Linked DNA regions of Homo sapiens. The protein of the gene in region 2 purifies or fractionates together with the protein of the main gene of each other region. This does not show direct contact. Each region holds a gene or a part of one and is shown on either strand. Other genes may lie near its edges.

Region 1 (3,500 bases), on a different chromosome or scaffold from region 2:
TACTTTAAAAAGTCAAGGTTTTTAAGCTTTTAAAAGTTTTACAAGTGCATAAGGTTTTGCTGTTTTTAATAGTCTTTTGATCTTTTTTTTGGAGATTTAGAGCGACGAGATTTGTCTCACAAGGAGAAACTCTACCTGAGAGAGCTAAATGTCATTACTGAAACTCAGTGCACTCTAGGTAAGAATAGCTTTTTAATGTGAATTTTTCAAGCTGAACATTTATGAGATAATACTAGATAAGTATCTTATTTCCTAAAATATTTTACAAAATTAATAAAATAAATTGAACTATTTAAATGCTACATTATTTACTTCATTTTTGATTATTGTTAAAATACACAGGAGAATGAAGCTTGAACACACATGTGGTTCCTGACTTATGATGGTTCAGCTTCATGATGGTGTGAAAGCAATGCATATTCAGTAGAAACCATACTTCAAGTGTCTATACAACCATTATTCTTTTCACTTGCAGTATAATATGTAACAAGTCACATGACATATTCAACACTTTATATTAAAATTTGTGTTAGCTGATTTTGCCCAGCTGTAGGCTAATGTAAGTTTTCTGAGCATGTTTAAGTTAGGCTAGGGTAAGCAAAGATGTTTGGTAGGCTAGATGTATTAAATGCTTTTACTTTTTAGGATAGTTTCAACTTAGGATGGGTTTATCATATGTAACCCCATTGCAAGTCAAGGATCAACCTCTATTCTATAACAGAGTATAATTGTCTAATTTTTCTCTTTTTTTTAACACAGAGTCTCTCTCTGTTGTCCAGGCTGGCATGCAGTGGCGCGATCTTAGCTCACTGCAACCTCCATCTCCCGGGTTCAAGGAATTCTCCCTCAGCCTACCGAGTAGCTGGTACTACAGGCGCATGTCATCACAGCCATCTAATTTTTGTATTTTTATTAGAGACGGGGTTTTACCATGTTGGCCAGGCTGGTCTCCAACTTCTGACCTTGTGATCCACCCACCTTGGTCTCCCAAAGTGCTGGGATTACAGGCATGAGCCACCATGCCCAGCCCTTGTCTAATAATTTTTACAGAGTTTTCAGAGTGTTTGTATTTTTTGTACAAAGCTTGTACAATATATTTTTTTAAGTTGCAGGTTCTTTGCTAAGTGCATGGTGTGTGCGTGTGGTCCCAGCTACTTGGGAGGCTGAGGGAGGAGGATCACTGGAACACAGGACTTTGGGGTTGTAGTGTGCTGTGATCATGTCTGTGAATAGCCACTGCACTCCAGCCTGGGCAAGATGGCGAGACCACATCTCTAAAATGCAAAAAGGCAAATTTTCTTCAATTTTTAGTTCTGTATAATTATGTCCGTGCTTTATTTGTAATCTTTTTTTCACAAACATTTTAATGCAACATGGCTACTTTTTATATAAATTCTTGGGAATGCATTTTAGCAATTGGTGAAATCTGATACTGTGAGTTTTGAAAATTGTCTCCATGGTGTGTGTGTGTGTGCTGATGTTTTTGGTGAAATTTTAATTGATTGTAATATTTCTTGTGTATGGAATTTGAAGACTGGGAACTATAATATGTTGAATTTTTTTTTATTCATCTAGTATTCTGTAGTACTTGTTAGTAGTTAGTGCATTTCATTATTTAACAGTTGTTTCCAACTAAAGGGATATATGTTCAAAGCACATAGAATCTTAAAAATAAACTTGTTTGGTTGAAAAATTGATATATTTGCCTTTTGCAAGATAATCTTTTGATTGCTCGAGTTTATATTGTGAATATTAAGTTTAATTATTTTCAAATGTACTAAGATATTTTGCTTTGGCTATTGGAAAACCATTACAACGTGGAGCGGTTTGAAGAATTAAATTTTGAAGAGTGCTTTTGTTCACTTATCCTTAAAAGAGCTTCTTTATTTTTTTATTTTTTGGTCTAAAATAGGCTTAACAGCATTGCGCAGTGATGAAGTGATTGATTTAATGATAAAAGAATATCCAGCCAAACATGCTGAGTATTCTGTTATTCTACAAGAAAAAGAACGTCAACGAATTACAGACCATTATAAAGAGTATTCCGTAAGTAATTGAGGTGACTGGCATTTTTTATTTGGGTTGGGGAAAATGACATTTTAGAAAGTTATATGTGACTTCCAACTGTATTTTTTTTTTCCAGCAAATGCAACAACAGAATACTCAGAAAGTTGAAGCCAGTAAAGTGCCTGAGTATATTAAGAAAGCTGCCAAAAAAGCAGCAGAATTTAATAGCAACTTAAACCGGGAACGCATGGAAGAAAGAAGAGCTTATTTTGACTTGCAGACACATGTAGGATAACTTAAATTTAGTACCCCCTGAACTTAGTTTATTACTTGTTATTGCAGAGTGCCCATCACCCCCTTTATCGTTATTTTTTGTACCACCTATGTGTGTGTGTTTTTTTTGTTTGTTTGTTTGTTTTGTTTTGTTTTTTGTGGCAGAGTCTGTGTAGCCCAGGATGGAGTGCAGTGGCATGATCTCGGCTCACTGCAACCTCCGCCTCCCGGGTTCAGGCGATGCTTCTGCCTCAGCCTCCCCATTAGCTGGGATTACAGGCGCCTGCCACCACACCCAGCTAATTTTTTGTATTTTTAGTAGAGATGGTGTTTTACCATGTTGGCCATGCTGACACCTGCGTGTTCTTTTTTTCCTCAGAAGTTGAGATGTTATTTTTAATGGTGTGCTTAATAATACTCAATTTACATTTTTTTGTGAGATGTCTTTTGCTTTACGGTTAATAATTCTAAATGAGACTAATAATAGCTACATATCATACTTGCTGTGCGTCCCAAGAGTTTTTAAGAGATTTGCATGTTAATTCTCATAGTAACCATGTGAGGTTGGAACTAGGATTACTTCCATTTCATAAAGAAATTGAGCTACAGAGAGGTCGTATAAGCTACCCAGATCACTCTGCTGTTAAGTAGTGAGCAAGAGATCCACTGCCATTCCTCAGGAGAATAGGCCTTTAAAACAATAATATATAGAACTGAAAGCACCAACTGTCCTCTTAGGTTATAGCTCCTGATATCTCCTAAAATTTTAGCTTTTCGAGGGGGAAGTGGGCGTGCAGTGGTGAGCACGTGGGGACTCTTCCTAAAGCCTTGATTCTTAGCATGGAATCAGTTTTGTGTTTCTCTTTATGTTAACGTAGGTTATCCAGGTACCTCAAGGGAAGTACAAAGTTTTGCCAACAGAGCGAACAAAGGTCAGTTCTTACCCAGTGGCTCTCATCCCCGGACAGTTCCAGGAATATTATAAGAGGTATTTAGTAGTTTTAGTTACAGTTGGTATCGGCTATTGGTAAGGGGTTTCAGAGCCTTTTGTACTTGCCTCCTAACAATTTTGGGGTCTATAGATATCACCGTAAGATATCGTATAGGATTTGTGTTGCTATTCTTCTCTGGTTCTGTGGTAAACAATACCCTGTAGTCAGAATTTGAATATATGCTGGTGAAGTCTAGATGCCTCTGTCTCTGCCCATTCTGTTTGGGTT
Region 2 (3,500 bases):
ATTCCCAGAACTATGTTCTTCTCCAAATTCTACGAAATCAGGGCTACTGATTTCTTCAGGAGACATCAAAAATTTGGAGAGCTAAGCTTCTGCCAGTTGGCAAAAGCAGCTTTCAATCAGCTACCTGAATTATTTTAGGAGGCTGGAGGCATCACTATTTCCAAAAGCCATACTGCTAAATCAACAGGAAGATTACAGGCTTTTGGAATCAAGTTCTCAGACTGTGGTCTTCAGTTTTTCTTGAAAGCTGCTTATAAAAGAAGGACTGTGTGAAACTTTGATATTTACATCAAGTCACAACTAAGGGGCAGGTTTGCAAAATCAATTGTGCAGCTTTTATACTCACTGCACATTTACCACATATGTCCTTTATTACACAGTGGAAAACCATTAAATGCACAGTAGTTTTGCCAAGTGGCATTATGCATTTAACAGCTTTATTCGTTTAACAGCTCCAACTCTCATTATATTTTGCCATGTGGTACATGGGATTTTATGCATTTAACAGTTTAAGAAGGCTCTATGGTATTTTCTTTTCATGTATTTCATACTATGGTTGGACATTATGTCTTAGCAAACTGTATTTCACTGATTTCATTGAAGAGAGAAAGTCAGAGTAATCTGGAAAACTTACTACACTGAAATTGAAAAGGGAAACAAACATTTCAATCCCTTTCCAAGTTCCTTGATATTCTACTCCCCTCCTTTTATCAACATCTAAAAATAACCTATATCAGGTTAAAACTGCAGGTAAAGAAGGCTAACCCTGTACTCTATAATTAATCTAAATATAACATTTAACTACAGTTTGAAGTTTTTCAGTTTTAAAAATTTAATTTTTATTGAAAACCTTCTTGCTTAATAGAAATACAATACTCAGTCACTTCCTTTCTTTATAGCACACAACAGAAGATTTGTTAGGGAGATGATCAACCATTTGATTATTTACATATGTAGGGATGAAAACATTTGTCATATAAGGACACAGAGGAAATCAAGCTCAGAATCAAAGGACTCTCAAAATTATGCTTTAACTAACTTTTATTTCCTCCACTCTGCATTAGGTGTTCGCCCTAGGTATACATAAGTGAGCATGCACCTCAAACCTAGGATTCTAGGTTTGGGCAGAAGTTGTCCCTTTAAATGAAGAATTGAAGCAGATAGTAGATCCCATCAACTGTTGCTGCTTTCAGAAATAAAAAACCTAAGCATCTGTCTGCTCTTTTCCCCAGAGCATTACATTCTCCACAATCCCAGAACTCTGAAAAATTTTACTGGATAAGCTTCTGTGTTTTTCTGTTAAAAGATTTTAGCACTTACTCTGCACTCCCCCCACGTGTGTTTTCTCCTGAAAAAATCAACTGTATTCTGTACATAAAAGAAACACCTGACATCAAAAGGTGTCTCTGGGGCTGGGGAAAAGTGGTTATTATAACAGAGTTGGACATTCCCCTTGTGGGAACAGGAAAGGTGATGAGACTTGGCTAAAACTTGGTCTCAGAAAGGTGCTGTTATATACATTCTAAGTTTTGTTCATACACACACACACACACACACACACACACACACATATATAAAGGGAGAGAAACAAAAGGGTACATTGCAGTGTTTAGAATAAGGAGAGAAATCATTCGAGGCTAATTTTTTTTAATCTTTAAAAGAAAAAAGGTCAAGTTTTGGCTTCATCTCTATTTTGAACTCCAATGGGAATAAAAGCAAACTAGAGTAAAAGGCAGAACATGACAGGTTTCTTGGGGGTTATTACTGTTATTATTATTATAGGAACAGATGTATTTTTATTGGTGGAGGAAGGAGAAGGATCTAATTCCAGCCCTCGATTTTGCTTTTTTAAAAACCACTCACCTGACTTTTATTTGCAGCCACTTTGGCAAACAGGGCTTGAGACACCTTGGCCCTTTTCATCTCCTGTTGGATCTCGTCATAAATGGCAGCTGTGATGTTGATGTTGGCGCCGTCCACCTTAATAGGGAGGTCTGTTGTCGGTGTCGAGGTTTTGGCCTACCAAGAGACCATGAAAATAATAATTTAAAAAGTGCTGCATTCAGCCCAGCCATCTGTGCAGAAATTATCAAAGGATTTCAGTCAGCTGATGCCAAACTGCATTAGCTACAGAGGGACACTTCCTGTCCATTATTCTAATCAGGTTAATTGTGATTGGAAATAATTGCAGTGCATTCCTATAGGACATGCAGAATCCTGTCAACCCTGTTCTCTCACAGCATCCCAGACGAAGGTTCACAGGTAGGATGGCTCTCCTAGACACCAAACTATAAGCAACCATCTAACTACAAAACAAACATGCAGAACACACACACAGTTAACCTTTTCTTTCTAAAAATGGCACACCTTGGAATAAGAGCCAATTCTTCCAGAAAAAAAATAAGTAAATGGGTAGAGGTCTCTAAATAATAAATTATTACTCAATTTAATGCACTCCCAAGTCTCTCTTATTCTTTATTAAAGCTTTACATATGTCATTCGAGTATGTATGGTTTCCCATCATTATCATCATTATGCTACCCAGACAGTCACCTAATTTCACCTAGGAAATCAGTGGAAATGAAACAAAATTTCATTTCATAAAACTAGGCTTCACAATGCCTTTGATGTGCCGTTTTCATTTTCTTAAACTCATATTGCGGTTTTATGTATTCTGCAGTGCTCGTTTTAATTGAATGATTTCCCATCAGCTTCAGAGACAAATGAAGGACAATATAGAAGTCTGTACTTCTTGGGGTTAGGATAACCCTAAAATGTCTGAATCTACTTAATCCAAAAGACGGTCATAACATTTACTTGGTGTGAGCCCTAGAATGCATTGCTGGTGTCTAATAAGAGAGGGCTGAGACATTTTCTTAGAACCTCTGGCAGCAAGATTTCAGGAAAAGACATCCTTGATCCTTGTGCACTACCAGCCGAATTGGCCTAACCTGGGTTTTTTCTCTTTGTCCCCATTCACCCTAGAATCTCAAACCAACAGAGTTATCTCCAAATCACAAGTTTCCCTGTGCGGATGCCCTGAGCTGTTCTCTACTGGATCCAGCAGTATGCAGGTCCAGAGAAAGATGTAACAGGCAGTGTGGACTCTGTGACAAATGGTGTCTAGCGGCAGAACTTAAGGCCCTACGTTTCCATAAAGGCTTTGCTTCCTAACAGTGCTCAGTAACTTCTGCCATTTTTCTTCTACCTCCTTCTCTCATACTATTTTCTAATTACCGCAAAGCAATAATTACTATAATTTATGGCGTGCTTTTTATGGGCCAGGTACTCCAGAAAGCATTTTAACATTTGTTTTCACATTTAATTCTTTTAAGATTCCAATGAGTTAGATATTATTATTTTCATCTTACAGATGAAGAAACTGAAATAAAAGAGGATCTTAACCTAGGACACCCAGCAGCCAGTGAAGGAACCATGATCTGAACGCAAGTCTTTCAGGCTCAAAAACATGGGCTCAGGACACTGCACTACACACTGCC

Evidence for each region.
Region 1: the proteins of SATB2 (region 2) and PHF10 purify together in Homo sapiens (affinity purification with western blotting, with the first as the bait; one study listed by BioGRID). This does not show direct contact.

What each region holds. Positions count from the first base shown.
Region 1 is NC_000006.12:169,714,501-169,718,000, reverse strand, and holds part of PHF10 (PHD finger protein 10), read left to right. Parts: intron 1-94; coding exon 95-178; intron 179-1,912; coding exon 1,913-2,046; intron 2,047-2,143; coding exon 2,144-2,293; intron 2,294-3,158; coding exon 3,159-3,268; intron 3,269-3,500. UniProt on the Homo sapiens protein: Involved in transcription activity regulation by chromatin remodeling. Belongs to the neural progenitors-specific chromatin remodeling complex (npBAF complex) and is required for the proliferation of neural progenitors.
Region 2 is NC_000002.12:199,321,940-199,325,439, forward strand, and holds part of SATB2 (DNA-binding protein SATB2), read right to left. Parts: intron 2,020-3,500; coding exon 1,864-2,019; intron 1-1,863. UniProt on the Homo sapiens protein: Binds to DNA, at nuclear matrix- or scaffold-associated regions. Thought to recognize the sugar-phosphate structure of double-stranded DNA.